Linked DNA regions of Homo sapiens. The protein of the gene in region 2 interacts with the protein of the main gene of each other region in a biochemical or structural test. Each region holds a gene or a part of one and is shown on either strand. Other genes may lie near its edges.

Region 1 (3,543 bases), on a different chromosome or scaffold from region 2:
ATCCTCACCAGCTCAGGAGCTTCTTGTCCGTAGGAGAGGCTTTACTGGATGTGGGGTTCGGTGTTTATGGAGATGCAGCCCTTCTCCCTCCAGCTTCGTGCACGTGTGCACAGACAGCGAGTGAGGCCGTCAGGGTGGGCTCCTGCCACGTCTTGGCCCCTCCCCAGAGTCGCTGGACTTAGGAGCTAGTCTGCATGTGACAGACCTTCCCAGTCAGTGGCAGGCGTTTCCCGGGACAGTGTCTGTGTGGCGGTCGGCGTGTGTGCAGCTGCCTGTACATGCTGGACCCCAGACTCCCTTGTCCCTGTGATGTTCATGCCAGGGTAATGCAAGTTGAATCAAATCGTGGTGCCACAACGCCCCCTGGAGTAGTTTGTGCCCGAAGCGGCTGTCTGACTCTTCCGCGCAGCCTCAGAAGCGCCGGGGTCGGTTCCTCACTCAATGTGCGCGGGGATGCGGCTCCCAGGAGACTGTGCTGCTGTTTCTGCTCTTCTGCATCCTCCATGGCTCCTGGGGCTGAGCCGGGTCCCCGGACGGTGGGACTGGGGAAGGCTTTGCCCGACGGAGCTCGGGGCTCTGTGCCTGGCGCTGAGCTCTCCCGTCCCGCACACTGGCCTCCCTGTCTGGGCCCCTCTCGCATTTCCTCCTGGCAGCTTAGACCTCTTCCTTCCCTTCCTCGCCCTCTGGCCTCCTCTCCAGCCTGTGCTCCTCAGGACGCTGCTTATGTACTTCTCTCTTCTAGGAGCGACCCCGAAGCCAGAGCCAGAGCCAGAGCAGGTCATAAAAAACTACACGGAAGAGCTGAAAGTGCCCCCAGATGAGGTTTGTGTCTTGGGACCTTGGCTGCCTTTGTTTCTGTTTGGAAACAACTCCACATGGAAAGGACATCCGCCCCATCTTGCTTGAAGGGTGCTTCCCAGGTGCCTCTGGGTGCCAGGGCCTTGCTCCAGCCCCTTTGGTTTCATCTCCCAGCCTCCCGAGACCCACATCGTTATGGTCTGAGCTTTGCACTTAAGGAGCTGTGGTCCTGAGCAAAGCCCCTCCTCTCCCGGCCCTGGCCTCTCCATAGCCTGATGGCCATCCTGGGAGCAGGAATTCCAGAGACAAGGGATGGGCCAGCCTGCCCCACTCTCCACCTTGCGGATGCTGGTGTAGAAGTGAGGTGGCCTCGTCCAGGTGGCTGTCCTGCCCCCCGGCTATTGGGAGAGCTGGTCAAGGTTCTTATAATTTTTTTATTCTTAAAGACGGGTGCACACTGTCGCCCAGGCTCAGTGCAGTGGCGTGATCACAGCTCACTGCAGCCCTGTCCTCCTGACCTCCTGTAATGAACAGGACCAATCAGACTCCTGTTGCGCTTCCATAGAACCTGAACCTCTACTGAGCCACGTTTTGGGGGCTGCAGCACCACTTTCCCCTGATTTTAGCTGGGAGCCCTGGAGATACTGTTGGGGGAGGGGGTGGGTGAACGGCCGGGAGTACCAGTACCCAGAGATCTTCAGATACTTGGGGGCGGGTGGAAGGCCAGGAGCCCCAGTACCCAGGGACTCTTCACTTGTCTCTTTCTCCAGTCTGTTGAGTCCATGAGAAAAATCTGGTAAGTAAAGGTTTGGAAAGGAGCCTGAACGTCCTCCTCATGTGTCCCACCCCTTCCACAAGCCCTTGCCACATTCCCGCCTGCCCAGCGCTCAGCTCTGTCTCGGCCCTGGTGTCCATCTGGTGTGACTGGGCCGTTTCACCCCAGGCTCCTCCTCTCCAAGCTGCCGTCTGCACAGCCAGCACGCAGCTTGGATCATGGGAGCACTCCCTGCCTGGAACCGCCAGCAGGACCCCCAACTCACACACAGCCCCAAGCCCCTGAGTGTGGCAGCCAGACCCCCGAGGGCGCGCCTCTCCCTGATCCTGTCTCATCTCCTGCTCCCAGCCCACCCCCTGCCAGCTTTAGTGCCCATGAGCTGGCTCCTCGTTCAGAACGTCCTCCTCCCTCTTCCGGGTGCCCACTCTGTGCTTGTCCATCTGGCAATTCCTGTCTCCCTTGTAAGACCCCACGCCGAGGGCCTCCCCCAGGATCCTGCCCTGTCCGTCCTCCCCATTTGGTGGCTTCTGCTGTCATGTCGGGCCTGTGCTGCTGGTAAGCCCTTCAGAGGCACAGGTCCCGGTGACTCACCTGTGTCTCCAGCCTGTGGAATGGACTTTTTTTTTTTTTTTTCTGAGACGGAGTCTCGCTCTGTCACCCAGGCTGGAGTGCAGTGGCACAATCTCAGCTCTGCAACCTCTGCCCCCTGAGTTCAAGCGATTCTCTTGCCTCAGCCTCCCGAGTAGCTGGGATTATAGGCACCTGCCAACACGCCCAGCTAATTTTTGTATTCTTAGTAGAGATGGGGTTTTCCCGTGTTGGCCAGGCTGGCCTCAAATTCCTGACCTCAAGTGATCGGCCTCCTAGAGTGCTGGGATTACAGGCCTGAGCCACTGCGCCTGGCCTCGGAATTGACTTTGACTGCACTTCCAGCATTTCAGCACATGAAAGCCTCTTTTTCCAAGACTGGCCCACGTCAGCCCAGCCCACTGTTGGCGAGCATGACCCATGTTTGGTCTCCTCCAGGACTGCATCATCTGCATGGAGAAGCTGTCCACAGCGTCTGGATACAGCGATGTGACTGACAGCAAGGCAATCGGGTCCCTAGCTGTGGGCCACCTCACCAAGTGCAGCCATGCCTTCCACCTGCTGTGCCTCCTGGCCATGTACTGCAACGGCAATAAGGTGCCCCCACTGGCCCAGGGCGGAGGCGGGTGGCCCGCCCCCACAGTCCTGAGCTGTCCCCTGCAGGGGCGGGAGGGTTCCGGGGGTGGCTGTAGGAATGGGCCTCTGCAAAAGATGGTGCTGGGCGTGGGGCCAGCTTGAAGACCTTTCTAAAGGCCTGGCCGGCTCTCCTAGGCCTGCCCTACTCTTCTAGGTCTGCCCCACACTTTAGAAAGGAGGACCAGTGCGGCTGGTTCCCTCCACCCCTCCAGCCAGGCCTGAGAAGATTCTGGGCTTCTCTGAGCCCCAGGGCACCGCCTCCCCCTCGGCCACTTGTAAGCACCGCAGACACTGTCTCCCTTCTTCCTTACAGCATCCCTGTGCAGTCAGCACAGTGCTCATGAGGGAGAGGCTCAGAGCAGGGGCTGTGCCCAGGGTCACCCCACTGGGAGGTGGGAGCCAGGCCTTGAGGCAGGGCTGATCCTGGGCCCCACAGCAGCCTACACATGAAGAGCCGCGCCCAGACTGACCCCCAGCTGCTCTCCCTGCATCGGCCTTCAGGCGGGATGGGCAGAGTTTAGAGGCTTAGAGAACCGAGTCATGTGGCGCATCGGAGCCTGGCTCGGCCTTCCCTAGTGTCTGCCATCCTGGGCAGCCAGGGCCCAGCTCCGCAGATCAGACGCTGCAAGGCTGTCTATCCGACTGCAAATGCGATTCACCCGTGGAGATTTCTGCTCAGGATCCGAGTTTTCCCACTCGCCACCTGTCTCCTGATAGCATGTCCCTTAACGAAAATGGCATGAGTT
Region 2 (3,652 bases):
CATCTGCAATGAAGAAATAATATGAAGAAGTCTCCCTTTTAAAAGTGGTGACAGCAATTTGGCCATGATATTTAGAGCTATGTAAAAAATAGATTATAGTGGTTGTCAGGTCAATAGCAGATAGGTAAATGGATTTAAACACACACATACACACACACACACACAACTTATTTGTTGTGAAGTCTGATATTCAAATCAATACAATATTTATTGAGCCCGTATTTTGTATCTGTCACACTGAGCTTGACACCGCAGAGAATCAGAAATGAATTCAATAGACTGTTTTGAAATGTCAGTTTAAACTCGTGTTTAAACACGATATTGTCAATCTATTTCATTAAGAATGTATTAGCGTTGTTCATCTACTCTTGTTTCGAGATGATATAAAATTTATTTATTTTTACATGTAAAAATGCAAAAACAACTGGTATACTTTATATAAAGTTGTTTATTAACATTGTATTTTTAACAAAGTTCTGCAGTTTTGAAATGTTCGGTCCCCCCAGGTGTCAAGGAAACGGAAATAAATATTTTTAACATTTTCAGGTGTATCTCACTGAAACCTTAAAATAGTTAGGGCATACTATTAGAGGATCCCAGACCCTTTCTATCCTAGATAATTCTAGTGACAAAGAAGTAATTTGCAAATTCAGCTCATTAGCTGATGGTCAGGTAACGGTGGAGAGAGCGTGTCAACCATGCATCCAGTAGCACCCTTTTAGTTAGGGGTCTGTCAGCATTTCCACTGTGAAGCCTGGTGTTCAGGGTTCGTAACTTAGTTGCCTTAAATAGCTTCAAGCTGAAACACTATGCAGAAATTTTAAGTCCAGATGTATATTTTAAAACTAAAAGTAGTTCAAGTCTATTCTGCTGTTTTAAGTTAGAGAACACTGGACTACATATATTTATCAGTATCATATGTTTTTCTGGCAGTGTTAAAGAAAGAAAACACATTTTTAGATATATAAGCTAGCACTCATAGTTAATTCTGTATATTTAATAATACCTTTCAGTGCTTGTCAAAAGGAGGGGTTTCAAAATGACAGAGCAATTTCTGTTTGAAAATAAATTTTTGGCATCACTAGCCATTTTTCTCTCTTCGAAAACAAATATACAACTGGTAAATACTTGATACCAGTGAGTAGTATTTTTCTTACATAGTTAATGATCAGATTTTATGTTTATATTTTTTGAATCTCATTGTATCTAAACTAGGGAAAATAGGTTGTTAAGCCTGTTAAATCCTTATTAACCGTAATATAAATTATTATGCAAAATTATGTAAATCAATAGATTTCAAGTTGTGTGAAGACAGACACATTTTTGTGTTATGCCTTTGAATTCAAGAAAACTTATTTAAAGTTAAATATTTTGGGACTGAATATATAAAACTTCTAAGTAAGGAAGTTGGAACAAAGAATTTCAGGTGGAAAATAAATACTTATAAAATTTTTTAGAAAACTTCTATTAAATATTTGAAAATAGGTATGGTAGATATCTTTCATTATTTTTTCCTCTTTGGCATTATTGTTTGTATCCTTTCAAAATTCCAGAATATCTATTGTTAGATGATCTAAACCACCATGATACATGGCCCACAAATTGCTGCTTTACATTGAAATAATTTTTATCAAAATTTATCTTTGACATATATATTTTTAAAATTATGAAATGACATATTGTGTTTTTTCTCTAAAATTCAATGGGCTTTTCCTAAGTTCTAGGATAAATTCAAAATATTAACTGTAGTATTTGTTGAAATGTTTTGATACTGTATTTGAAGTTATCTTTAAGTAATTGTGATAGGAATAACATTTTTGCTTTTTGCAATTAGTCTCACTTCTCTTTTTATTGCAAAGAAAGATTTGATCAGATTTTATCTTGAAAAATAATTATATTTCAATTATACCGCAAGTACAATATCCTGAATTATTTTGGCCTATAAGAGTAATTGATTAGTTAAGACTAGACTTCTGTCCATGGAAATGTCATAGGCAATTTTAATTTCCATATAAAAAGATGAGAAACTGTTTTAAGGGTTTGAGTTAATTCTCCATTCCTCTTCTTTTAGTGATTCACAGATTTAGTCATAAGGAGTCTCATACAAAATTTCAATAGCATTACTACAGTTAAATATCCTTCTACTTTATTTTGTGCAAGCCACATATCATGTGATTTAAATGCTAGTTATGGTGAGGTGCGCTAAATAAAGGAACGTCTTTCTCTATTCTGAAATGTCAGGACAGAAAATTACTTCTCCTTTTCTCATGGAGTTTCTTGAATTTGTAGATTTTATATTTTAAAAAAACATAGAAATGTAATTGTTAAGATCATCACAAATTATTCTTTGCAGAGCAGTACTTTTGTATTGGGTAGGATGGAAGCAAATTCTAATTTGTGCTTATTCCTAACTAGTTAAAGAGCGAGTTTTGACTGCACTTTACCCCTTCAAATGTTTTTCCATTGCTTGGTTTTGGTACAGATGAAATGTGTAAAAATTTCTTGATTCTTTTGGTTTTCTTTTAGATAAACACAGTTGAGAATCTCCAAGGGAAACTTTTTAGCTTCAGAGATCTACTTAAAGAAAAAACCTCTCAAACATATAATTATACTTCTGATTGATATAAAGTCAAATACAGTACTTCCCCCAACTCCCAACCTTTTCTCCCCCTCAGAAAAACATCGGGCAATCTGATTTGGTAGAGTGAATAGCAGAAAAAAAACCAATATATTTAGCCATTAAACTAGAGTTCAGCTTTAACAGGAAAGATTGTCACTACCTTGCATTAGCATTTTTTTTCAGGTCTTGCTCTCAGCCTCATAGAAGGCTCACACAACTTGTGATTATTTATTTGTTTTGTAAAATGTGATACGTAAAACACACTAATATTGAATATGGTCATTATTATACTGCTTAAGCACAGTAAAATGGATGTATGTATTTCACTCTTAGGGATCTTTTCTTTCATATTTTCCCATATTGAATCAATTTTCCATTTCTTCTAACTAAAAAAAAATTCATTATGTTAAAAATATGCAGTAAAATAATAATGTCCCAGAGTTCTTGAAAACCTTTATATTGGGGCAGATTGCTTTTTTTTTTTTTTTTTCGGAAATGTAGCCAGACTTGAGTGAAATCCACCAGCAGTCATCCTGTATCTCTCAACAACATCAAAGAACATCTCAGAACATGAAGTGAGGAAGTACGTACTCAGTTGAACCCTTTAAGAATGCTTATAAGTAAAAGCCTATGTTTAACAGACAGCAGATTTGGAACAGAACACTGTGTTACCCTCCTCATCTTACAAAAAGCACATCATTATAATTACACTCTATACTTATATAGTATCTTCTACATTTTGCAGACTTTCCAATTCATATTGGAAAACTGTGGTTCCTGGAGATGAAGTTATTTTGTGTGAGGTCATAGCAGATATGTAGCAGAAGTGGGGAAAAAGTGGAGCCTCTTGATTTTGGTATATTCATTCTCTTCTAAACAGTACAACTTTTCTCCTGCCTTTATTAATATGCTTACTGGGTCCATATTTACTTTGACATAGAAAGCCACGCAGCAGGTGTTAAAATACAATATGCTGAGTGTACAAAATGTCAAACATTCAGATGAATCCTGGCGAATGTAGTCAATTATTGC

Evidence for each region. The genes of interacting proteins can lie anywhere in the genome.
Region 1: the proteins of RUNX2 (region 2) and DTX2 form a complex in vitro, tested with the Homo sapiens proteins (one study listed by BioGRID).

Annotation. Positions count from the first base shown.
Region 1 is NC_000007.14:76,499,699-76,503,241, forward strand, and holds part of DTX2 (probable E3 ubiquitin-protein ligase DTX2), read left to right. Parts: intron 1-742; coding exon 743-822; intron 823-2,506; coding exon of another isoform or gene 2,507-2,521; exon of another isoform or gene 2,522-2,536; intron 2,537-2,599; coding exon 2,600-2,758; intron 2,759-3,543. UniProt on the Homo sapiens protein: Regulator of Notch signaling, a signaling pathway involved in cell-cell communications that regulates a broad spectrum of cell-fate determinations.
Region 2 is NC_000006.12:45,425,746-45,429,397, forward strand, and holds part of RUNX2 (runt-related transcription factor 2), read left to right. Parts: intron 1-3,652. UniProt on the Homo sapiens protein: Transcription factor involved in osteoblastic differentiation and skeletal morphogenesis. Essential for the maturation of osteoblasts and both intramembranous and endochondral ossification.